Homo sapiens: one gene and its partners. The gene in region 2 interacts genetically with the main gene of each other region. Each region holds a gene or a part of one and is shown on either strand. Other genes may lie near its edges. The genes, in order: SSB, DCAF7, SEC24B, SEC24C, CARM1, PPP2R1A and SEC24A.

Region 1 (3,500 bases), on a different chromosome or scaffold from region 2:
TAGCATTTTTTCAAATTTAGGTATTATGTTTATGTTAACGTAATACCTCAAGTGATCCGTAGTACCTTTGCAGTACTGATGCAGGAGGATGGCTTGAGTCCAGGAGTTAGAGACCAGCCTGGGCAACATGATGAGGCCCCATCTCTACAAAAAAATTTTAAAAATTAGCTGAGTGTGTTAGCAGTTTACCTGTAGTCCTAGCTACTTGGGAAGCTGAGGTGGGAGGATTGATGGAGCCCAGAAGGTAGAGGCTGCAGTGGCTGTGATCATACCACTGCACTCCAGCCTGGATGACAGAGCGAGACACTGTTTCAGGGGGCGAGGGGAAGAAACTTGAGAGTCTTCGTGAGCATACTCTGGCTGGGGAGGCTGCCTGATTTGCAAATCGTTCTTTGTTCAATTAAACTCAAAAAGAAAAAAACCTTAAAATCTTTACAATATCGATAATGGTTGCATGGGAAATTATCTCTAAACTTAGGTTCTTGCTAAGAACCCCTCAGATCATATTGTTTGGTGTGGGGTTTTTCTGCAATTCTCAGAACTGCTTTTTTTTTTTTTTTAAGCTGCACGTCTCTGCATTTAAAATGTCTCATGTTCCTTTTTTTGGTATTAATTTCTTTATGACTATGAGGAGAAAAATTAGAAATTATTCATTCTGTGTTTAATACTTAGAACAATACTAAGATGTATATAGAAAAGGTTGTATCTCTCCCACAACCTGCTAACTCTCAAATCCTACTCTTCTGAGGTTATCAAGGTTAAAAGCTTTTGACACTTTGCTTCATGCTCATACTAATTTTTTTAGTGGACCTTATATTTTACAACAGTTCTAGGTTTACAGCAAAATTGAGCAGAAGGTACAGAGATTTTCCATATATCCCCTGCCTCCACACAAGCATAGTGCCTTCACCTTTTAAAACATCCCCCACCAGAGTGGTACATTTCTAACAATTTTATTTCCTTCCCTTTCCCCCGCTAAATATAGGATGCATTTTTGTGGAGAAAAGTTTTGTAATCAATAATCTTTTCATTCTCCTCTTTAATATGAAGGATGTTTCTAATTTTTTTAGCTGTAATCATTCTTTGACAAATATTCTTATATATAAATCTTAGTAAACATGTTTATTGATTTCTTCAAGGAAAATTCTTAGAAGGAGCCATACTGGCTCAAGGATTATGCACATTTAAAAAACACTGATAATTGTCAGTTTACATCTACCTGAATGGCTAGTTCTCTGTGTTCAAGTCAATACTAGGTAGTCTTGGTTTTCTTTCTAATCTTAGCCAGTTTGTTAGGTGAAAAATGCTGTCTCGTTGCTTTAAATTGTATTTCTTTGATTAACAATGAAATGAGGTTGGATTTTTTTTTTAGTTTACAGTACATTATTTATTTATTTATTTTTTGTGATGGAGTCTCACTCTTGTCTCCCAGGCTGGAGTGCAGAGTGCAGTGGCGTGATCTTGGCTCACCACAACCTCCACCTTCCAGGTTCCTCAGCTTCCCAAGTAGCTAGGATTATAGGTGCACACCACCATGCCCGGCTAATTTTTGTATTTTTAGTGGAGACGGGGTTTCACCATGTTGGTCAGGCTGGTTTCGAACTCCTGACCTCGGGTGATCCACCTGCTTCGGCCACCCAAAGTGCTGGGATTACAGGCATGAGCTATTGCGCTTGGCCTATTTTTTATAATTTTTAAAAAAATCATTAGCTGGGCATGGTGGCATGTGCTTGTCGTCCTAGTTACTTGGAAGGCTGAGGAGGAAGATCAATTGAGCCCGGGAGTTTCAGGCTGCAGTGAGCTGTGGTTGCACCACTGCATTCCAGTCTGGGCAACAAAGCAAGACCCGATCCCTGAAAAATAGTGTCTTTTTTTTTTTTAAGACAGAGAGACAGTATTGCTCTCCTCTCAGGCTGGAGTACAGTGGCGGTGATCTCAGCTCACTGCAACCTCCACCTCCCGGGTTCAAGCTAGTCTTGTGCCTCAGCCATCCGAGTAGTTGGGATTACAGGCGTGCACCACCATGTGTGGCTAATTTTTGTATTTTTAGTAGAGTCAGGGTTTCACCACTTTGGCCAGTCTGTTGTCGAACTTCTGGCCTCAAGAAATTGACCCGCCTCAGCCTCCCAAAGTGCTGGGATTATGGGCTTGGGCCACCGTGCGAGGCCAATAAAATATCCTTTAACTGTTTTCTATTAGGGTGTTCTCTTTTTACCCTTCTTCTTTGTTTGTAAGAATTCTTGACAAAATTTGTTTGTCTTTTACTTTTTATGTTACTTCTGGCATTCCAAATAGTCATACTTGGGTTTTTCCTTGGCTTGTATATTGAGAGTTCCTCTATGCTTAAATTTGAGAAACATTTACTTTAACTTTTTTTTTTTTTTTTTTTTTTGAGGCAGCGTCTTACTTTGTTGCCCAGGCTGGAGTACAGTGGCACAATTATGCCTCACTGCAGCTTCAACCTGCCAGGCTTAAGCAATCCTCCCACTTCAGCTTCCTGAGCTGGGACTAGAGGCACGTACCTCTATTTCTTATTTATTTTATTTATTTATTTATTTTTTGGAGAGCTGGGGTCTTGCCATGTTGCCCAGGCTGGTCTTGAACTCCTAGACTCAAGCAATGCACCCACCTCAGCCTCCTAAAGTGCTGGGATTAGGCATGAACCACCACTCCTGGCCCCCCACCCCCTTTTTTGAGATGGAGTCTCACTCTTTTGTCAGGCTGGAATGCAGTGGCACAATCTTGGCTCACTGCAGCCTCTGCCTCCCGGTTTCAAATGATTCTTCTGCCCCAGCCCCCTGAGTAGCTGGGACTACAGGTGTGTGCCACTATGTGCAGCTAATTTTTGTATTTTTAGTAGAGACGGGGTTTGACCATGTCGGCCAGGGTGGTCTCAATCTCTTGACCTCCCAAAGTGCAGGGATTACAGGCGTGCGGCACCGTGCCTGGCCCCGTCCCTTATTTTTTAATTTTAAAAAATTAGAAGGGCAGGTGTGGTGGCTCATGCCTGCAATCCCAGCACTTTGGGAGGCCGAGGTGGGCAGATCGCTTGAGATCAGGAGTTCAAGGCCAACATGGTAAAACCCTGTCTCTACTAAAAATAACAAAAATTCGCTGGGCGTGGTGGTACATGCCTGTAATCCCAGCTACTCAGGAGGCTGAGGCAGGAGAATCACTTGAACCTGGGAAGCGGAGGTTGCGGCAAGCTGAGTTCATGCCACTGCACTCCAGCCTGAGCGACAGAGTAAGACTCTGTCTCAAAAAAAAATAAGAATTGAGTGATTAACCAATTTCTTCCAGTTCTTTTTATTTAACCATCTGTTCTTTCCACACTGATTTGCAAGAGCCTTTTCATATAATCTTTAAATATATTCTTCTTTAAGGTTTTCTAGTCTATTGACACATCTGTTACACTATTTTAGTAATTGACATTTTAGTTTTATCTTTTTGCTAATTTGTAAACATTATTGTATATTTGGGGAAAGTGTTTTGCCTTTTGT
Region 2 (3,500 bases):
CCTGCCTTAAAGTGATTCTCAGGCTAAGTTTGTGAGAAACCCTGCCAAAGAGGTGGTCGACTTCATAATTTGGAGGAACTTTAGAATTATTGGTTGGAATTTTTAGACCATTGGTTCCTGCTTGCCATGGATAGTGGTCACCAGCAGAGGATAAAGTAAAATGGACACAGCAAATTAACACTGATGAAAAAGGCTAGAAGTGGTCATCTTTTTAGTGTGGAGACATTCACTAAGAAAACATGGTTGTAATTTTTAAAAATTTGCATTAGCATAATCATGTTTTCCTAACGTAAAATTGTACCTAGTTGATCCATAGAATTAAGTCTATCAACAGTTTAAGAAATTGACTTCCAGGTGTTCCTTCATGTGAATAAATTTGGGAATTGTTGCAGAGTAAAGAAACAGATTCTATCAACTACACTTGGAATAAAAAGCCCCATTATAGGGCTGGGCGTGGTGGCTCACACCTGTAATCTTAGCACTTTGGGAGGCTGAGATGGGAGAATCGCTTGAGCCCGGGAGTTTGATACCAACCTGGGCAACATGGAGAAACCCTGACTCTACAAAAACATTAAAAAATTAGCCAGGTATGGTGGCATCTGCCTGTAGTACCAGCTACTTGGGAAGCTGAGGTAGGAGGATGCTTTAAGCTCAGGAGGCAGAGGTTATAGTGAGCCAAGATCACGCCACTGCACTCCAGCCTGGGCGACAGAGCCAGACCCTGTCTCAAAAAACAGCCTCATTATTGGTTATTATGTTTCTACCTTCTTTTGTTGTGGTCTCTTGAGGGATACAGCAAGATTGGTGTTGGAGCAACAGGTTCTCTAAATTTTAGTGTGTGAGAATCCTGAGGGAGCTGCACATTCCTGGGCTCCACCCCTGAAGTTAACAGACTTGGAGATAGGTGACAGACACACTAGTGGTTGAGTGGTCCAGATGGCACTCTCAGAACATGGCCCTGGAGCTGCCTTGGCATCTGTTGGCCAGAGGCGAGAATGTGATCTTTTTGTGTCTGCATGCTCCTAAACATTGGTTCTGCCCTTCCATCCAAGTTCACCCATGAAAAAAGCTCTGTGATTAGCCTGGGTTATCTAAGTCCTGCCACTTCCCAGTTTTGTATTGCCTTGGGCAAGTTATCCTCTGTGTCTCAGTTTCATCATCTGTAAAATTAGGGCAATAAATAATAACATCTACCTTGTTCAAAGATTAAATGAGTTAATATATGTAATGGACTTAGGAACGCCACCCGGTGTGGAATAAGCCATATAGAGATGTTAGCTGTTATTTAATTATTATCATTACTGTACCTGTAATTGAAATATAACCAAAGAGAATTATATGGCTGTTTAGTAAATTTACTTTTGTATTTTCCAGAAAGGATTCAGGAATAAGAGGTCAGAAAGGTAGCTGAAAAGGTCATTATTTCATTCTCTGCCTTTTAAAGACTCTGGGGGGAAAATTCCCTTATCTCTTTCAACCCAACTCATTTTGTAGTCTAGCAGATTCTTATAGTCAGACTCCAAGTAGTGTAATTTTCTAGTTTAAATCCATTTTCTCTTGTTCTACCTGGCTTACCTACGTAAGTCAGATATAAGAATTTGGCATTTCTCCTGTGTTTTGACAATATGTTTGGTCTTTAGGCCCAGGTGTTATTTCCCCTCTTTTATTGGGAAAAGCTGGGTAGCAGTTCCTGGGCTTCTGTTCCACTTAAGTGCATGTTTCAGGGTTGGTTTTGATAAAGATGGCAGTGTGATTGGGATTTAGTTTGCCCCAGTATTTAACTGACTACTTGTGCTCTAAGATTTGGCATCCAGAGAGTATTTTTGAGGTTCTGAGGAGAGACTGTAGGTATATCTGATGCTTTTTGGAGAATCCTAGTAGTGAGTCTGGGTGGCATGACCACCTTGTACTTGAAACACTGGGATGGGTACTCACCTCACCAGCCTGTGTTGATTCCTCTGAGGTTTTTAATACAATTACTTTATATGTTTGATGCATAATTATTTCGACTCCGGTATTTAATTTTTCATCTTGGTATTTGCGGTAGCCCTTCAGGATTATCATTCATTTGCTCATTAATTTAGCCGGTCTGTATTGAACACATACTCATGTGTTTTAGGCACAATGTGTTTTGGTACACATCAGTACTTTTGATAGATATTTAGAATGTCGCAGTGTTCCACGAGTCCCTGTCAAGACTGTCAGCAGGGGAATTTAAGACATAAAACTCTTCTGGTTTTAACTTCCTCCTTTTTCTAGACAGTGAGAGGACTCATTCCCTGTTGTGACCACTGGATAAAAGTGATAATGCTTTAAAAAAAAATGCTACTTTATTGCTTTTTGTCCTAATCTTGTTCACATAGACTTATTGGAGATGCTGTCACTTGAACAAGGAGTGAATCTATGCTCTGTAGGTAGCCTGGCTTGCCTAAGGACTTGCTGCCAAAGCTCTCGCTGCCAGAGCTCTCTGGTCAGCCTCTGAGCCACGAGCCAAAGGTGTGCTGTGCCAGAATTCATCTTAAAGTTTAATAGGGCAGGACCTTGGGTACCTGCAGACACTGGTCCTTGGTAATCAGTCAGGAAGAGGCTTGAAGAGAAAGCAAATAGAAAAGACCAGGAAAAGCTAGTGTATATTCTCAGAATATTGTGTTAGCCGATTTTTGTTTTATTAACAATTGTGGGAAAATGTTCCAGTGACTGGAGTGTTATGTTGATTTGGATAACTTGGGAGCTTATTTTAAAAATTACATATACATACACACATTCACCTTCTTCTTCTGCACTAGGACTGTGTGTGTTAAAGTGGAATATGGCCAGGCGCAGTGGCTCATGCCTGTAATCCCTGCACTTTGGGAGGTGGATGCAGGCAGATCACCTGAGGTCGGGAGTTCAAGACCAGCCTGACCAACATGGAGAAACCCTGTCTCTACTAAAAATACAAAATTAGCCAGACATGGTGGCACATGCCTGTAATCCTAGCTACTTGGGAGGCTGAGGCAGGAGAATAGTTTGAACCTGGGAGGCAGAAGTTGCAGTGAACGGAGATTGTGCCACTGCACTCCAGCCTAGGCAACAGAGCAAGACTGTTTCAAAAAGAAAAAATAAATCAGGGCCGGGCGCAGTGGCTCATGCCTGTAATCCCAGCACTTTGGGAGGCTGAGGCTGGCGGATCACGAGGTCAGGAGTTTGAGACCAGCCTGACCAACATGGTGAAACCCCGGCTCTACTAAAAATATAAAAATTAGCCAGATGTGGTGGTGCGTGCCTGTAATCCAAGCTACTTGGGAGGCTGAGGCAGGAGAATCACTTGAACCTGGGAGGCGGAGGTGTGGTGAGCCAAGATTGTGCCACTGCACCAGCCTGGGTGACAGAGTGAAACTCCATCTCAAAAGAAAAAACAAATTAGCTGGGAGTGGTAGCATGCACCTGTAGTCCCAGCTACTCAGGAGGCTGAGATGGAAGGATCACTTGAGCCCAGGAGGTCAAGGCTGCAGTGAGCC
Region 3 (4,231 bases), on a different chromosome or scaffold from region 2:
CCTAGTTATTCCCTTACCCACGTAATTATAGACCTTAATCCAAATTCAAAGGACTCCTGGGAGATGCTGGAATCTGTAATTGTGTAATCTCTTTGATGAAGCACAGAGTGTGATCTTTTGCTCATGTGGGGCTAGGTTTCTGTGGAGAAGCTGGAAATGCTGTGGAAAAGGGCTTGCCCCTTTTGTGTATATGAACTCTAATGTAGTTGAAATTCCTAGAAGTCAAAGATATAAATCTAACTACTAAAATTCATTTAGTGCATTAAAATGCCAGTTATTAATTTACGGCAACAACTAAAGGGAAGCTTTGTATTATTCTAGGACTACAATGCAATTTATGCTTTGCATAATCATTCAGTAAATGACTTATTGCTCCAGAAATACCATCTTGCTAGATCCCATTCTGAATTCAGTGTTTCTGAGCAATCTCATCTCCAATACAGAGTGATGACATACTCAGGATTCCAAGACGGCAAAATGACTTGGGTAATGTAGTCTAGGGCCTGCCAGTGAGTATGCTGAGACAGACCAGAAAGACTTAAAGATTCCACTAATGTAGACAAAGCAAGCTGAGCCACAACTTCTCGGAACACCAACAGGATGCACCAACAATCGACAAAAAAAAAAAAAAAAAAGGAGATAAAGTTTAAAGTTTGTCTTCCAGCATTCCCTTACCCTATTTTCCCCTTCCTCTTCCCTACTTTATCAGTGGGAAAAGTTCTCAATAATGCAATTCTTACTGAGATTCTTGTGTTTATCAGAGAAATGTTTCCTCTTTCTTTGCCAAGGAATTATATATTCCCAACAGACATGGCGCTTGAATGCTATATTTCCTTTGGAATCAAGAAAGGGGAGGTGGGGGAATCAAAAATTAAAAACCAAACCCAAGCCATTGTTCCTCTTCGAGGAAGGGTGGGTGGTCAGTCGTCGCCTGAGCTCCGAACATCAACCCGCGGCTCTCAAGTTCCCCTCCCAGTAATGCTGGGCCCAGCCTCGCCGCGGCCGATCCAGCCTCTGCCCTAGGTGGAAGCGGGCCACCCGGTCCCTTCACCCACTGAGGCCCAGTCCTTTCGCCTCAACACGAAGGCACCTGGCCGGGCCGGAGCAGCAGCCGCGGGGCCGGCACTGGGGCCACGGAACCCCGGGCCAGACTCAGGCCTGGGCCAGCTCGGCTCCGGCCTGCAGGGGGCGCTGCGGCGGCACCGGCGCGAGGCCCGCGCGTGCGGGGAGCGACCCCAGGTGTAAGTCCCGGGGCGTGGGGCGCGTGGGTCAAGGCGGAGCGACCCAGGATCCCCGCGCCCGCGGCGGCCGCCGAGTGGCAGCGCTGGACTCGCGGAGAAGCTTGGGTACCTGAGCCGCGGTCCCGGGTGACACCCTCAGTGACGCCAGGCGCGTTCCTTCCTCTTCCTCTCTCCTCTCCGGCCCCGCCTTCCCTTCCCTCCGCCCACCTCCCTGAAGCGGAGCCGCCGTCGCCACCAGCGCCGTCATGTCGGCCCCCGCCGGGTCCTCTCACCCGGCCGCCAGCGCCCGGATCCCGCCCAAGTTCGGCGGAGCGGCCGTCTCAGGAGCCGCAGCGCCCGCGGGCCCGGGTGCGGGCCCGGCGCCGCACCAGCAGAACGGTGAGGCGGGCGGCCCGGGCGGAGCGCGGGGCCTAGCACCGGCTGGGCGGCCTGCACGGCCACATCGGGGCGGGGCGGGCCGGGCCGGGAAGGGCGTTCGGGGCCAGGCCCGGCCCGAGGGACGGGAGCGGGCGCGGTGCGGAGGCCGCGGGGTCCGGGTTGGGTGCGGGTAGGGGGCAGGGAAGGCACGGCGCGGGGCGCGCGGGGGTGGGACGCCCCTGGCGTGGGGGCGGGGGCCGGCCTGGGAAAGCTGGGGCCGTGGCTGTTTATGTAATGCGACCCCAGGCCCGAAACGGCCTCGGGCGAGTAGGGGCGACTGAAAAGCTGGGAGCCCACGTAGTAAAACCCAGTTACCTAGCCTGGACGCGGGCGAGTTGCCCCGAGCGACCCCTTGGCTGCGAGAGCTGGCCAGAAGCCGAGGCCGCTGAGTGCGTGGTCCGGAGAAGGCTGGTGCAGCCACCCAGCAGGGTGGATTGTGCCCTTCCTGTCTCAGGAAAATTGCTTCGGTTCCCGAGGCCCAGCGAACACGCTGCCTTGAGGAAACTTAAGTTTGCACTCAAGTTTGTAGACAAAAGGGTGTAAATATGCTATATAAGTGTAACTGTAACCCTGACCCAGTTCGGCCTCAAGAACTGTCATTGCCGCTGCGGCTGCTGCTCAAGCTTTTGGAGTTTGCTTGTAGTGTTTGAAAGGGAGCAGATGTAAACGGATTTAAACGAACATCTTTAGATCTGGGTGTTTTTCCTAGCTCCACTTTCAGAGATGAAAAAACGTGCCAGAGTTGGCCCTGCTTTGAGGCAGGGCCTTCATACAGGCAGCAGCCAAATGCAGCACGAAAGCCGCTTTCATATTAAGGTCGTGGGCTTTTAGTAGGCTGCAAAATGATGGATATGCATTCCCTAATGCTGAGATTTGGAATGTTCGCGGATAGGGGCCAAGGGTGGAGGAATTCTCCTTACAGACTTCTTAGTATGTCAGATGAGAACCTTGGAAAGTAATTGACTGAATTTAGAAAAATACCTCTGTCCTGTGTTGGTACGAGAACCAAACTGCATTAGTACTCTCCAGATGATTGACCTGTTTTATCTAATTTCCTAATGAAAATCTGCTGGACTTTATGAATTAGTTTAATCAACATCTAAGTTTTACAACTGATGCTTTTCAAACATGAAGTGTATCGTTTGTCCTGAGGATCAGAAGTTGAGTGATACTTTAGCCTTAATATTCTTTGGATCAGCCTTACCTATCAGTATTACATGCTGTACTCTCAGTAGTCATTGTTTACTATAATCGCTTTTGGATATAAACCTGTTCTGAACAAATGTAAAAATACTATTTGTGAGCAGTGTTTGTTCTTGTAACCTTAATATAAGTTCTTGTTTTTGTTTGTTTTTAAAATAGCTTTATGAAGGAACTAGAACACGATAATTTAGTAAAAGAGCCCAAGTCTTTTAGAACATTGTAGACTCATGTTTACCAGTGATTCAAGGATTGTGTCTTTCCTTGATTTTCTGAATATGCATTATCATCTTAGTGAACAGTTTTTAAAGTGGCAAATGTTTATTACAGCCTTATAAATTTTGTGAACACTCAAGAATGCCAGGATATGTACTCAGCCAAGTGTAATCAGGATGTTAAAATCTGTAAGAACAAATCAATGTTTTGATGCCAAATATAGATGATGCTTGAGTTCTCTTGTTTATAATCACTACTTTCCTTTAATGTTGCAATAATCATTTCAACATTTATTGCATGCTTACCAGTTGGGGACTCAAGGTTAGGGTAGCAGATGAGACAGAGTCCCTGCCTCTCTCCTGACTTGCCCTGTATTTGGTAATGTTTGAATTGGTTCTGGCTAGCCTTGAGGGACTCGACAGGTTGGGGTGGGAGGGAAAGGTTGACTCTAGGCAGAGGTTACAGCATGAACTAAAGTTTGGAAATATGAAAGTGCAGGGCATGCTTGGAAAGTGGAAGGAGTCAAGAGGTGCAGAGGGTGCTGGGTGGCATGGGAAGCCAAGGCATCGAAGCCGAAAGGAGCAGGTTAAAAGGGGTCAGGTTGCAGAAAGGCCTTAAATGTTATGCTAGGAAATTTGAAAGTTATGGTAAAGTGTAAGAACTAGGGTCAGGTAGAGTACGAGGTCTCCCTGTGTTGCCCAGGCTGGTCTGCTGGGCTCAGGTGATCCTCACACCTTATCCTCCAGAAGGATTTTTGTTTTTGTGGAAGGGATTAGTTTAAGTAGAGAAACAAGATTAAATCTCTTTTTGTTTTGTTTGCTAATCTCAAAAAAAAAAAGTTTGCTACGTGGTATCAGCATGTAGTAAGCAGTCATTTGGGTTTCTCATTTATTTTTCAGTCCTACAAAAGTAGTTAGCCTTTTAATATATCTCTATGGAATTCCAGACATGGTGAAAAAGAAATAGGTCAGAAATATGAGCATAAAACAGACAGAATTGTAAAACTGGAATGGTACCTAGAAATCACTCACTTCAGTGTTGTGGTGTGATATGAAATACGTTTGGCCTTTGTCCTGGGTTCCTGTAACAGCTCCTAAAACCCTTGTAATTTCCTGAGTGATAGGAGTGTCGCTTGCTACTCATAAGGAGTCTTTTGA
Region 4 (3,500 bases), on a different chromosome or scaffold from region 2:
CAAAGGCTCAGTTTATATTCTGCTTATCTCTCCGTCTTTCTCTGTGTGTTTGTCTATTTCTATCTGGGTCCCATTGGGGATAGTTGGGCACTGGTCTCTTATGTGTAGGGTGACATTTGCCTGGGGCATCAGTAACTGGCACAGAATCCCAGGGATACGGGAGGAGGTGTTACAGATATTTGGTTAGGGAAGGAGCTGGAATCAAGATTCTTAGAGCAAGAGTGAAGGGCATTAGAGATGGGGCCAGAAAGGAGAATCCTAGATAATCTTGGCTTTCTCCCTCATATGCCCATGGCAGCCCCTAGTCTGATATGGCCGGTTTTGCATTTCCTCTTCTCTTTCAGTGAGAAATGCAGCTCTGGGGGTGGGATGTAGGAAGAGGGAACTATATAATTTTTACTCATAGGGACATTTTCCTGTGATTTGTCTTTACTCCCTTTCATCATTGTGCTCCCTACTCCCTCTGCAGACAGAATATCTGCGCCATGCGCCTTCTTCCTCCGGTTGTTCTTCCTCATCTCCTGGCTGAACCTACTGTGGTTTTCCTTTATGTCTGATCCCTTCCCCTTTGCGCCTTAGGCTTCACCGTATGTTGTGGACCATGGGGAATCTGGCCCTTTGCGCTGCAACCGCTGCAAAGCATACATGTGTCCCTTCATGCAGTTCATTGAAGGAGGGAGGCGTTTCCAGTGCTGTTTTTGCAGCTGTATCAATGATGGTATGTTCATGGAAGCTGGGATTTGGGGGAAGGTCTTGATTGTATCTTCCTTGTTCTCTATTAAATAGTTAGAGAGATGAGGGTCCATCTTTCAGGAGCTGGGGAAGTAGGGCACATGGGAATGAGGGATAGTGGTGTGAGCTCAGCTAGGGCCAGAATACTAAGATTGAAACTGGATCTTCGAGTAACACACTGCCATGCTTCCCACAGTTCCCCCCCAGTATTTTCAGCACCTGGATCATACCGGCAAACGTGTGGATGCTTATGACCGCCCTGAGCTATCCCTGGGCTCTTATGAATTCTTGGCCACTGTAGATTACTGCAAGGTGAGGGAAGGTAGCATGGGAGGAGCAGTGAGTGGAGGATAATGAGACAGCTGAGAATGGCTGTTATCATTTCCCTCACCCCTTTTTTGTCCCTTTTTGATGCTGACTTCTCTATAGTCAACTGGCCTGCTTACCATTCCCCCTCTCCCCAACATTTTCTTCCTCTGCAGAACAATAAGTTCCCCAGCCCTCCTGCCTTTATCTTCATGATTGACGTCTCCTACAATGCCATCAGGACTGGTCTTGTTAGGCTCCTCTGTGAGGAGCTCAAGTCACTGTTAGACTTTCTACCTAGGTGAGAGTTACAGAACTGAGGTGTTTCCTGAGGTTAATGATAGGGTGTCTGGGTTGACTGAAGAAATGTAGCTTGGTGTCATGAAGTTGTGGGTGGTGGAAAAGGTGGCAAGTCTAGGTAACAATGTCACCTTCTACAGGGAGGGTGGGGCAGAAGAGTCAGCAATCCGCGTTGGCTTTGTCACCTACAATAAGGTGCTCCACTTCTATAATGTGAAGAGCTCATTGGCCCAGCCACAGATGATGGTTGTGTCTGATGTGGCTGACATGTTTGTGCCACTGCTGGATGGCTTCCTGGTCAACGTCAATGAGTCTCGGGCAGTTATCACCAGGTAAGAGCCAGATTGTGGAGGTAAAGGTTGGGGGTGGCATGGGTACCACCATAGAAGGTCATGGAGTTGAACAGAGGTATTGGACAGTAGATGGAAAGGGGTTGTGGCCCAGGAGTTGTCAGATTCTAGAGGCTTGATGACTCTTCAGGGAATCGAGAACTGAGGTATCTGGAATCTGTATAGCAATTTTGGTTGTTTTCCGTCACCTATCTCTTTAGCTTATTGGATCAGATTCCAGAAATGTTTGCAGACACAAGGGAAACAGAGACAGTATTTGTACCAGTTATCCAGGCTGGAATGGAGGCTCTGAAGGTAAGGCTGGAGTATCGGGCAACCTCCTCTAACTCCATTTTCCTCTGACCATCTTATCCCCTGGGATACAACCTCTCTTTCTTCAGTAGTGGGTGACTGTCCAGTGTGTTAGACTGTCTGACATAGCTGGTGCTTAATAAATGACAAGGGAAGAGATGGATGAATAAAGAATAAACAAGTAGTCCTCTCTTTTTTCCTAGGCTGCTGAGTGTGCAGGGAAGCTCTTTCTATTCCATACATCCCTGCCCATTGCAGAGGCCCCAGGGAAACTGAAGAACAGAGATGACAGGAAGCTGATCAATACAGACAAGGAGAAGGTGTGGGACTGGAAAATGGGGGAGGGGAAGGATTTTTCATTACAGAGGAAGTGGGGACTCTACTTTCTTGATGGTGGCTAGGACCAGACACTCCACCCTTTCAAATACCATATCTGTGACTGCCAACCTCCACTGCTGCCATACTTCTCTACTCCATCTGATGCCAAAGCTGTTGGTAGACTCTTGTATTTATTTATTTTTTAAAGAAGAACTTTTGGCCGGGCATGATGGCTCATGCCTGTAATCCGAGCGCTTTGGGAGGCCAAGGCGGGCAGATTTTTGAGGCCAGAAGTTTGAGACCAGCCTGACTAACATGGCAAAACCCCGTCTCTACTAAAAATACAAAAATTAGCCAGGTGTGGTGGCACACACCTGTAATCCCAGCTACTTGGGAGTCTGAGGCAGGAGAATCGCTTGAACCTGGGAGGCAGAGGTTGCAGTGAGCTGAGATCATGCCACTCTATGCCAGCCTGGGTGACAGAGTGAGACCCTGTCTCAAAAAAATAAAAATAATATAAAAGAAAATTTTTTACTATTGGAAAATCCTTGGAAGTAGATCTGAAGTCTTCCATGAATTTGAATATCCCATGCTAGATATACAGTTTTCAAATAGGGCGGAGCTGAGATATTTGAACATTTTCTTCTCCCCATTTTCTTTCCCCCTAGACTCTGTTCCAGCCTCAGACAGGTGCCTATCAGACCCTGGCCAAAGAGTGTGTGGCCCAAGGCTGCTGTGTAGATCTCTTTCTCTTCCCTAACCAGTATGTGGATGTGGCCACACTCTCTGTTGTGCCCCAGCTCACTGGTGGCTCTGTCTACAAATATGCTTCCTTTCAGGTATGGTGTGGGATTTGGGGCAGCAGGTGGCAGCAGGGCTGGGAATATCTGCTTATATATGCAGTGGCTGACTCATTAATAGAAATAGTGTTGGGGCCAGGCACGGTGCCTCACACCTGTAATCCTAGCACTTTGGGAGGCTGAGGCAGGCAGATCACCTGAGGTCAGGAGTTCAAGACCAGCCTGGCCAACATGGCAAAACCCCATCTCTACGAAAAATACAAAAATTAGTCGGGTGTGGTGGCGGGCGCCTGTAATCCCAGCTACTCAGGAAGCTAAGAATCCCTTGAACCCGGGAGGTGGAGGTTGTGGTGAGCCGAGATTGCGCCACTGCACTCCAGCCAGAGCGACAGAGTAAGACTCC
Region 5 (3,500 bases), on a different chromosome or scaffold from region 2:
CCCATCTTGCCCTCCCAAAGTGCTGGGATTACAGGCGTGAGCCACTGTGCCCAGACTTTTTTTTTTTTTTTTTGAGACATGCTCTTATTCTTGTCACCCAGGCTAGAGTGCAGCGTTGCCATCTCTGCTCACTGCAGTGTCAACTTCCTGGGCTCAGGTGATTCTCCCACCTCAGCCTCCCAAGTAATTGGGACTACAGGCGCATGCCACTACACCGACTAATATTTTTATATTTTTAGTAGAGACGGGATTTCACCATGTTGCCCAGGCTGGTCTCAAACTCCTGGGTTCTAGTAATCTGCCTGACTCCCAAAGTACTGGGATTACAGGTGTCAGCCACCATGCCTGACCCTAAAATAGTTTTTTATATATTCTGGACACTAAATACTTAACAATAGATGATTTGCAAATAGTTCTCCTAAGAGTTTTCTTGTTTTAGCTCTTATATTTAGGTCATTGCTCCATTTGAGTTCTGTTTTGTTTGTATATGGTGTGAGGTAGGGGTTTAACTTCATTCTTTTCTCTGTGGTTATCCAGTTTTCTCAACAGTGTTTGTTGAAGACACTATTCTTTCCCCATTGAATGTTCTTGGCATCCTTATCAAAAATCAATTGAGGATAAGTATAAGGGTTTATTTCTGGACTCTGATTCTGTTCCATTGATCTGTGTCTCCTTTCTTTTGCCAGTACCACTACACTGTTTTCATTACTGTACCTTCGTAGTAAAATTTGAAATTGAGACATGGGAATCCTCCAACTTCATTCTTTTTCAAGACTGTTTTGGCTATTCAGGGTGATTGAGAACACTTTGCCATATTTGCACTCATGTTGTTGTTGTTATGATGGGCTATTCAAAAGCAAGCTACTGACATCATGGGAATTTGCCATAAATACTTCCGCATATGTTTTCTAAGAAAATATGCATTTCTCTACAAAACCACAATACCATTGTCACATCCAAATAACTTAAAATTATGGAATATGTAGTCCACACTCACATTTCCCTAGTTGTCTTTTTTTTTTTTTTTAATAGGATCTCACGTCTGTTGCCTAGACTAGAGTGCAGTGGCACCATCATACCTCACTACAGCCTCAACCTCCTGGGCTCAAGCGATCCTCCCACCTCAGCCTCCCAAGTAGCTAGGACCACAGGTGTGAGCCACTCTGTCCAGCTCCCCAGTTGTCCTTTATTTATTTTTTTGAGACAAGGTCTTGCTCTGTCACCCAGGCTGGAATGCAGTGGCACAGTCATGACTCACTGTAGCCTCAGCCTCCTGAGTCCCTAAGACAACAGGCGCATGCCACCATGCCTGCCTAATTTTTAAATTTTTTTGTAGAGATGGGGTCTTGCTATGCTGCCCAGGCTGATCTCCAGCTCCTGGGTTCAAGTGATCCTCCTGCCTTGGCCTCCCAAAGTGCTGGGATTAGAGGTGTGGGCCCAGCCTCCCCAGTTGTCCTGTATAACTTTTAAAAACATTTTTCGTTTGGCTCCAGCCCAGGGTCCCACTTTGCATTGCATTGGGCACTCCCCTCTTTCTTGTCTCCTGCACTCTGGAATAGCTCCCACCGTTTTGGTCTTTCCTGACATTGGCCTGTTCAAGGAGACCAGGCTGGTTGTCCTGTAGCCTGCCCCACAACTTGTCCTTTTCTGTTGTCCCTTGAAGATGAGACTAGGGCAAACATTTTTGCCAAGAATACTACAGATGATGCACCTGTCCCACTGCAGTATGGCAGGCAGGGGCACAGTGCCTGATTGGGCTGGCCCGTTCCTGGCATCGCTAAGTTTCACCATTTGGCTGGAGTGGAGTGGCTGCAGGTTTGTGGAATGAATGACTGGTAACAGCTATCATGATGGGTACAGGGAGACAGTGTCCTAATTCACTAGACCACTGCCCCGCCATTAGCCCCATCTGATGGTGAGAACCCCAGTTCCAGAGAGGCTGAGGGACATGCCTGTGTCACAGTGAACAAATGGCATGGATGGGGTGTGAACCCAGCGGTCTGACTCCACTGGCCACATGCAGTCACTGCTCTGCGCCCATCCAAGAACAGAAGGGCTCAGCCGAGCAGGGCAGAGGCAGCTCCAGCTCTGAGTTCCTGTGGGCCAGCACCATGCCTTGTGGCCCTGTCTGCCCACCTCAGCCTTCACCATGCCCGTCTCAGCCCTGATCATCCTGAGGACACAGGCTGTGTTCCTGCTGTCTGATCAGTCGCTCCCTTGTCTTCCATGTGGGCTGGGCAGTCAGGGCACCCGGCAATGCTGCCAGGGTGGTTTTGTGGCACTCTGGAAGAATCTGGGGGCACCAAGGGGAGGCAGCAGGAGGGCGACAGGGACCCAGGCTCAAAAGAAGGCAGCTGACAGGGCTGCACCGCTCACGCCAGCCTGTCTTCTCTCGTAGATGAAGATGTGTGTGTCTTTAAGTGCTCAGTGTCCCGAGAGACAGAGTGCAGCCGTGTGGGCAAGCAGTCCTTCATCATCACCCTGGGCTGCAACAGCGTCCTCATCCAGTTCGCCACACCCAACGGTACGTGGCCCTCCTTCCATTCCGGTGACACCAGCCCAAAGCGCCCAGAGCCCTGGTGGGCAGGGGCGTAGAGCCTGGCTGAGGGGTGGCCCGTGCATCCTTAAGAAGGCTCCACTGCCCTCAAAACCACATTCCCACATGCAGGTATGCCCAGAATACACTCTGGCCTGGGCAGACCCTGGATCCCAGACCCTCCCTCACCGGCTCCTCCGGGTCTTTTGGGGCTTGGCTTCTATGTCCCCACCTCCAAGAGGCCCATCCTGACCACCTGGGACCAGTCTTTCTGGCAGTGGCCAGCCCTGGGCCAGCTGTGACTGGGCCAGCTGTGGATGGAGTGAGGCGAGGTCCTAGAGGCAGGAAGAGTTTGCTCAGGGCGCAGAGAAGCCACCAGAAGGGCTTAACCAACCCACCTTGGGGGCACAGGTGGACACAAGATTCCTGACTAGGGGTGGGAGAACCCCAGGTGGATGCAGCCAGGGTAGCAGAGAGGTGTCCAGGAATGCCCAGGGCTGGAGATGGTCTGAAGGTCCCACCGCAGGCTTGGTTACCAGAGACCTGAAGTGAGTCCAGTGGTTGACACAGGTGCTGGTGCGAGGACAGCTGGAGGTGGAGAGGCTGCGTGCCCATGAGCCACTGCCGGCCTCCCCCTTGTCTCAAGGTAGCTGTGCAGTGACCCAGATGTACCTTGGGCAGCCTGAGCCCTCGGGGCCAGCTGTGTGAAGCTGCCATGCCTGGCTAATTTTTTGTAGAGATGGGTTTTCACTGTGTTGCCCAGGCTGGTCTTGAACTCCTGGCCTCAAGTGAGCCACCTGCCTCAGCCTCCCAAAGTGCTGGGATTACAGATGTGAGCCACCGTGCCCGGCCCCTTTTTTTTTTTTTTTTTTTTTTTTGAGAAAGAGTGTCACTCTGTTGCCCAGGCTGGAGTTCAGTGGTGCTATCTTAGCTCACTGCAACCTCCACCTCCCGGGTTCAAGGC
Region 6 (3,500 bases), on a different chromosome or scaffold from region 2:
ATGTTAGGTACAGTACAGAGGAATATCACTGACGATCTTACTGAATTCTCACAATCACTCTTTGAAGTAGGTCCTGTCCTTGTCCACATTTTCCAGATGAGGAAACTGAAGCACCATAAATAACATGGCCAAAGCTGTGCAGCTGAGAAATGAAGGAGCCAGGAAAGGAAGTAGGACCTAAGGGTGGAATAGAATCTGGGGTGGGACACACGGTTGCTGATTATATTCATATGCCAGACATTTTAATTGTGTCTGAGACAGTTCAGGATACTAGAAGGAACATGGGACATGAAATCCTGTAGTCTTGATTTATTTGTTCAGCAAATATTTATCAGCACCTCCTGTGTGCCAGACTCTGTTTTAGATACTAGACATACAGTAGGGAACAAAACAGCAAAGCTGCCCTTGTGGGGTTTACATTCTGGTTTGGGAGACAGATAGTAGATCTGTAGTGGGATGTCAGTGGCAGTAATTGCTAAGAAGAAAAATTGCTGGACGTGGTGGCTCAAGCCTAATTGTAACACTTTGGTTTTATTTTATTTTATTTTTTTTGAGACAGAGTCTCACTCTGTCGTCCAGGCCGTCTCTGCTCATTGCAACCTCCGCCTCCCGGGTTCAAGTGATTCTCCTGCCTCAGCCTCCTGAGTGGCTAGGATTAGAGGCGCCCACCACCACATCCAGCTAATTTTTGTATTTTTAGTAGAGAGTGGGTTTCACCATGTTGGCCAGGCTGGTCTCAAACTCCCTGCCCGCCTCTGCCTCCCAAAGTGCTGGGATTACAGGCATGAGCCACCACCCCTGGCCAATTCTAGCACTTTGGAAGGCCAAGGTGAAAGGATCGCTTGAGCCCAGGAGTTTAAGACCAGCCTGGGCAACAAAGTGAGACCCTGTCTCTACCAAAAAAAAAAAAAAAATTAGCTGGTGTGATGACACAGGCCTTGGTCCCAGCTGCTCAGGAGACTGAGGTCGGAGGATTGCTTGAACCAGGGAGATCGAGGCTGCGGTGAGAGCCTGGGCGACAGCAAGACCCTGTCTCCAAAAAAAAAAAAAAAAAAAAAAAAGAACAAAATAAGACAGGTACAGGGAATAGAGCAAGCACCTGGGGCTGCTTTGTTAGATAGGGAGGTTAGAGAAAGCTGCTCTGAGGAAGTGATGTTGAACAAGGATTTGAATGAAATGAACAGGTCGTGGAAGAGCAGTCTGGGCAGAGGGAATAGTTGGTACAAAGGCCAGGAGTGGGAGGATGCTTGATGCGTTCAAAGCACAGCAAAAAGGCCAGTGTGACTGAGGCAGAGAGAATGGCAAAGTGGTGGGAGGTGAGGACTAGACCAGGACTAGATCAAGTGAGGCCTGTGGGCCAAGGTGAAGGCCTTGAAGATGGGAGGGAGGAGGAGGAATTGCAAGGCTTTCAGTAGTAATTATGGGTTCTGGTATAATTTTAAAGGATCCTTCCTCTGGCTGTCATAGGGGTTGGGCCCTGTTGAGGTGCCATTACAAAGCACCCAGGACCAGTGTTAGCATGCAGGGGGGAAGTATGGTTACAGTCAGGACATGTTGAGGGGGGCTGATGGGATTTGCTGGTGGGTAATGTAGAGGGAAGAGTTGAGGGTGACTGAAGTTTGAACCCCCGCTCTGCCAGTTGTGCTCTCTGTGTGCCCCTGGAGCAGTACTTTCCCCTCTTTGGACCCAGATTCCTCATCTGCAAAATGGGGATAATGATGAAGAATCAGCGTGTGCCTGGTTGTGAAGATGCAGTGAAATTGGCTTGCTCATTGTTCTGCGGTAGTCATATGGTGGGGATTGAGCAGACCTGAGGAAATGGGGCATCTGGGGAACCGTGTGGGACCAAGTCAGCAAGTGCTAAAGCCTGGGTTGGGAATACACTGGGCTGTTTGTTTTTTTGGTTACTATCAAGGAAGCAGTTGTGACAAGCCAGGCCCAGTGAGAATGGATCAGTAGACTAGGGTCAGATTGTGTTGGGCCTTGTAGGCCAGAGTAAGGCCTTAGCTTTTATTCTGAATGTGCAGGGAAAACATACTACATGTGGGATTATACCATATACATTCATATTATGGAAGGCTCCATGGGTTGAATGCAGGGTGGATCTTCAAAAGTGGGTCCCCTTTCCACAGGTGCATATAGTGGGAAGGCGGATTTTATTTATTAACTCACCACAGAGCAGGCTCTGTGCCGAGGCCTGCTGGGACACAGAGAGTCCCAGTCTAGGGTGGTAAGTGCTGTCATGGAACCATATGGGTGGACTCTTTGGAAAATCCCAATTCCTATTCTCTCACTTAACACAACAATCAACAACACAGAAGAAGACTTCCGTGACTAAATGTGTGTTGGGGTGGGGAGGGATTCTTCACCACCACTAAGCAAGCATTCAGTTCTGCAGCACACGCCAACTGGATGTCCTCCAATTCAGTTCAGACACGACCTGGAGACAGTGTTGGATCCAACAGGTTGAGGGCTCAGGCCTCAAAACTGCCCCTTGGCCCTCGCCTTCAGTTGCCATTCTGGGTCGTCAGAACTTCTGATCTACCTGCTTCAAGTTGGAGTTCCCATGACCACCCTGCCTTTGGGTTTGATTAATATGCTAGAGCAGCTCTCAGAACTCAGGGAAACATGTAAGTTTATCAGTTCATTATAAAGGATAGTATAAAGAATACAGATGAAGAGAGGCATAGGGTGAGCTATGGGGGAAGGGGTGTGGAGCTTCCATGCCCTTCTTGGGTGCACCACCCTCCAGGAACCTCTGTGTGTTCGGCTATGTTGAAGTTCCCAGGCCCTGTCCTTTTGGGTTTTTATAAAGGCATTGTTAGGTAGGCAGGATTGATTAAACCTGGTGATCACCTTGACCTTCAGCCCCTCTCCGATCCCTGGAGGTTGTGGGGTGGGACTGAAAATCCCAACCCTCTAATCATGCCTCTCTGTTTTCCATGACTATCTTTCCAGTGACCATGGACCCCATCCTGAAGGTATCAGTCAACATTAGCATACAAAAAGCGCCTTGGAGATTCCAAAGATTTGAGGAGTTGTATGCAAGGAAATGGGGATGAAGCCCAAATCTGTATCTCACAGTATCACAACTGTAGCAGGTGCTTGGTGGGGACACACTTGGGAGATAGTCAGTGCACAGGGAATTCTCAGGATATGACATGATCAATGGCCAGTCAAGGTTTCTGAAATGATATTAATAGATTTTCTATCAGGAATGTGACGGAGACCCCAACCTAGAGTTGTTTAAACAAGTAAGAGTTCTCTTTATTTCTCATATAGCAAGTTCAGCAGCTCAAAGCTATCACAGAATTGGGTCAGCTCAAAGATATCACAGAAATGCGGTTTTTTTGACTGGCCTGTTTTGGTTATAAGATTCCAGCAGCATCTGCTGTCCTAGTGGAACTGCACTTTTTAGTGCAGTTTAGCAGAGGCCAGCTTAGGACACAGAGGTTCTTTCCCTCCTCCCTTTTATGAAGGAGGAAAATCTCTCCTGAATC
Region 7 (3,500 bases), on a different chromosome or scaffold from region 2:
CTGCTAATAATACAGAGAGTAGGGATATGGTATCAAGTTGGAGAACAGGATATTTTTCAAGAAGGTGAGAAAACGTTTCAATGCTGGGATCTAGTTTTGCTTAACTATTCCAAAGCAGTAGTTGATGCTTGCATATTCTGTTGAAAACTCTTTTTTTTTTTTTTTTTGATGGAGTTTCACTTTTGTTGCCCAGGCTAGAGTGCAATGGCTCATTGCAACCTCTGCCTCCCAGATTCAAGCAATTCTCCTGCCTCAGCCTCCTGAGCAACTGGGATTACAGGTGCATGCCACCACACCCGGCTAATTTTTGTATTTTTAGTAGAGACAGGGTTTCATCACATTGGTCAGGCTGGTCTCAAACTCCTGACCTCAGGTGATCCGCCCGCGTCGGCCTCCCAAAGTGCTGGGATTACAGGCGTGAGCCACCGCGCCTGGCCGAAAAGTCTTAAGTATTTAATGAAGTTTGCTTAAATTACATATTACAGTATAATTAGATCTTCAGTTTGCTTTTGTTTTTTGTTTTTGAGATAGTCTTTCTCTATTGCCCAGGCTGGAGTGCAGTGGCGTGATCTTGGCTCACTGCAACCTCCATCTCCTGGGTTCAAGCAATTCTGCCTCAGCCTCCTGAGCAACTGGGACTACAGGCATGCGCCACTATGTCTAGCTAATTTTTGTATATTTAGTAGAGACGGGGTTTCGCCACGTTGCCCAGGCTGGTCTCGAACTCCCGAGCTCAGGTGATCCGCCCACCTCGGCCTACTAAAGTGCCGGGATTACAGGCGTGAGCCACTGTGCCTGGCCAGTTTGGTGTTTTTTGTTTTTGAGACGGAGTCTTGCTGTGTTGCCAGGCTGGAGTGCAGTGGTGCGATCTCAGCTCACTGCAACCTCCACCTCCCAGGTTCAAGCGATTCTCCTGCCTCAGCTTCCCGAGTAGCTGGGGTTACAGGCACCTGTAGCACATGCCACCATGCCTGGCTGATTTTGTATTTTGTTTGTTTGTTTTGTTTTGTTTTTGTTTTTGTTTTTTTGAGACGGAGTCTCACTCTGTCACCCATGCTGGAGTGCAGTGGTGCGATCTTGGCTCGCTGCAAGCTCCGCCTCCTGGGTTCATGCCATTCTCTTGCCTCAGCCTCCCGAGTAGCTGGGACAATAGGTGCCCGCCACCACACCCGGCTAATTTTTTGTATTTTTTTTTTTTTTTTAGTAGAGACAGCGTTTCACCATATTAGCTAGGATGGTCTCAATCTCCTGACCTCGTGATCTGCCCGCCTCTGCCTCCCAAAGTGCTGGGATTACAGTTATGAGCCACTGTGCTCGGCCTAATTTTTGTATTTTTAGTGGAGACGGGGTTTCACCATGTTGGCCAGGATGGCCTCTATCTGCTGACCTCATGATCCTCCTGCCTCAGCCTCCCAAAGTGCTGGCATTACAGGTGTGAGCCACCATACCCGTTCCAGTTTCGTTTGTTTGTTTGTTTTTTAAAGAGCCTGGGTCTTGCTCTGTCACCCAAGTTGAAGTGTAGTCACTTGATCATGGCTCACTGCAGCCTCGAACCTCCTGGCTGAAGTGATCCTCCCACGTCAGCCTCCTGTGAAGCTAGGACTACAGGCACATGCCCTGAAACCTGGCTAACTAAACAGTTTTTTTTAGAAAACAGAGCTGCACTCTGTTGCCCAGGATGGTCTTGAACTCCTGGACTCAAGTAATCCTCCTGCCTTGGCCTCCCAAAGAGCTAGGATTACAGGCATGAGCCACAACATCTAGCACAGATATTTTATATATTATAGTCAAAAGACCTCACCAGGTGTGGTGGCTCACACCTGTAATGTCAGCACTTTGGGAGGCCGAGGTGCTAGGATTGTTTTAGCCCAAGAATTCAAGACCACCCTCGGCAACATAGTGAGAACCTGTCTCTACAAAGAATTTTTAAAAAATAGGCATGGTGCGGGCCCAGTAGTCCCAGCTACTGGGGAGGCTGAGACAGGAAGATCACTTGACCCCAGGAGGTCAAGACTGCAGTGAGCTACAATTGCACAACTGCACTACAACCTGGGTGACATGGCAGTATCTTGTCTCAAAAATAAATAAATAGGCCGGGTGCAGTGGCTCACACCTGTAATCCCAGCACTTTGGGAGGCCAAGGCAGGAGGGCTGCTTGAGCCTAGGAGTTCAGACCAGGGTAGGCAACATAGGAAGACCCCATATCTATAAAAAAGTAAGAAAAATTAGTCCAGTGTAGTGGTGCCAGCCTGTGGTCCCAGCTACTCAGGAGGCTGAGGTAGGAGGATCACCTGTGTCCAGGAGGTTAAGGCTGCAATGAGCCATGATCATGCCACTACCCTCTAGCCTGGGCAACAGAGTGAGAACCTGTCACAAAAATAAATAAATTAATAAAAAACAAAAGACCTAACAGTAGCCTTTTTCAAAAAAAAAAAATATATATATATATTTTTTGAGACGGAGTCTCACGCTGTCACCCAGGCTGGAGTGCAGTGGTGCAGATCTTGGCTCACTGCAGCCTCTGCCTCCCGGGTTCAAGTGATTCTCCTGCCTCAGCCTCCCGAGTAGCTGGGACTACAGGCGTGCACCACCATGCTCAGCTAATTTTTGTATATTTAGTAGAGACGGGGTTTCACCATGTTGGACAGGGTGGTCTCAATTTCCTGACCTCGTGATCTGCCTGCCTTGGCCTCCCAAAGTGCTGGGATTACAGGCGTGAGCCACTGCGCCCAGCTGAGAGGTTTTTCTAAGTCTTTGTGTATACATATTTCCTTTGCAAAAATTGATAGCAGACTACAAGACCTTAAACTAATGGATCTTAATCTGATTATCATGTATTAACGCTAAAGGCAAATAATGACTCCCACCATTAATTAGTGCCTTTATTGACTGAATCAACTTGCAAAGCCAGTTAGAAACTGCAGTTTTGTTTTGTTTTGTTTTGGTTTTTCAGAAATGGTCTCACTTTGTCCCCCAGGCTAGAGTACAGTGGTGCAGTCTTGGCTCACTGCAGCCTTAACCTCCATGGTTCAAGCAATCCTCCTGCTTCAGCCCCTGAAGTAGCTGGGATTACAGGTGTGCGTCACCATGCTTGTCTAATTTTTTTGTGTCTTTAGTAGAGATGGGTTTCACCATTTGGCCAGGCTGGTCTCGAACTCCTGACCTCGTGATCCTCCCACCTTGGCCTCCCAAAGTGCTGGGATTACAGGTGTGAACCACTACGCCTGGCCCAGGCTTTCCTAAAGAAACGTACAGCTTTTTGGCCAGGCTGGTCTCAAAATCCTGACCTCAGGTGATCTGCCCGCCTGAGCCAAAGTGCTGAGATTACAGGTGTGAGCCACCGCACCCGGCCACATGAGATTTTTTACTAATGCAGATTCTGGGATCCTTTTGAATCCTATGAAATAGGATTTTACAAAGGTGGGACCTGGGATCTCAATTTGTACCATTATTATAGCAGGTTCCTCTGATTCTGAAGCTGCTGGTTGGGTGGGAAGCAC

What was found.
Region 1: changes in DCAF7 (region 2) and SSB together harm fitness more than expected from each alone (negative genetic interaction), as found in Homo sapiens cells (one large-scale study listed by BioGRID).
Region 3: changes in DCAF7 (region 2) and SEC24B together harm fitness more than expected from each alone (negative genetic interaction), as found in Homo sapiens cells (one large-scale study listed by BioGRID).
Region 4: changes in DCAF7 (region 2) and SEC24C together harm fitness less than expected from each alone (positive genetic interaction), as found in Homo sapiens cells (one large-scale study listed by BioGRID).
Region 5: changes in DCAF7 (region 2) and CARM1 together harm fitness less than expected from each alone (positive genetic interaction), as found in Homo sapiens cells (one large-scale study listed by BioGRID).
Region 6: changes in DCAF7 (region 2) and PPP2R1A together harm fitness more than expected from each alone (negative genetic interaction), as found in Homo sapiens cells (one large-scale study listed by BioGRID).
Region 7: changes in DCAF7 (region 2) and SEC24A together harm fitness more than expected from each alone (negative genetic interaction), as found in Homo sapiens cells (one large-scale study listed by BioGRID).

What each region holds. Positions count from the first base shown.
Region 1 is NC_000002.12:169,801,871-169,805,370, forward strand, and holds part of SSB (lupus La protein), read left to right. Parts: intron 1-3,500. UniProt on the Homo sapiens protein: Binds to the 3' poly(U) terminus of nascent RNA polymerase III transcripts, protecting them from exonuclease digestion and facilitating their folding and maturation.
Region 2 is NC_000017.11:63,553,477-63,556,976, forward strand, and holds part of DCAF7 (DDB1- and CUL4-associated factor 7), read left to right. Parts: intron 1-3,500. UniProt on the Homo sapiens protein: Involved in craniofacial development. Acts upstream of the EDN1 pathway and is required for formation of the upper jaw equivalent, the palatoquadrate. The activity required for EDN1 pathway function differs between the first and second arches.
Region 3 is NC_000004.12:109,432,384-109,436,614, forward strand, and holds the start of SEC24B (protein transport protein Sec24B), read left to right. Parts: upstream 1-1,431; 5' UTR 1,432-1,486; coding exon 1,487-1,619; intron 1,620-4,231. UniProt on the Homo sapiens protein: Component of the coat protein complex II (COPII) which promotes the formation of transport vesicles from the endoplasmic reticulum (ER).
Region 4 is NC_000010.11:73,764,872-73,768,371, forward strand, and holds part of SEC24C (protein transport protein Sec24C), read left to right. Parts: intron 1-579; coding exon 580-718; intron 719-928; coding exon 929-1,044; intron 1,045-1,214; coding exon 1,215-1,339; intron 1,340-1,478; coding exon 1,479-1,670; intron 1,671-1,888; coding exon 1,889-1,982; intron 1,983-2,182; coding exon 2,183-2,299; intron 2,300-2,965; coding exon 2,966-3,136; intron 3,137-3,500. UniProt on the Homo sapiens protein: Component of the coat protein complex II (COPII) which promotes the formation of transport vesicles from the endoplasmic reticulum (ER).
Region 5 is NC_000019.10:10,902,553-10,906,052, forward strand, and holds part of CARM1 (histone-arginine methyltransferase CARM1), read left to right. Parts: intron 1-2,398; coding exon 2,399-2,524; intron 2,525-3,500. UniProt on the Homo sapiens protein: Methylates (mono- and asymmetric dimethylation) the guanidino nitrogens of arginyl residues in several proteins involved in DNA packaging, transcription regulation, pre-mRNA splicing, and mRNA stability.
Region 6 is NC_000019.10:52,193,052-52,196,551, forward strand, and holds part of PPP2R1A (serine/threonine-protein phosphatase 2A 65 kDa regulatory subunit A alpha isoform), read left to right. Parts: intron 1-3,500. UniProt on the Homo sapiens protein: The PR65 subunit of protein phosphatase 2A serves as a scaffolding molecule to coordinate the assembly of the catalytic subunit and a variable regulatory B subunit.
Region 7 is NC_000005.10:134,651,785-134,655,284, forward strand, and holds part of SEC24A (protein transport protein Sec24A), read left to right. Parts: intron 1-3,500. UniProt on the Homo sapiens protein: Component of the coat protein complex II (COPII) which promotes the formation of transport vesicles from the endoplasmic reticulum (ER).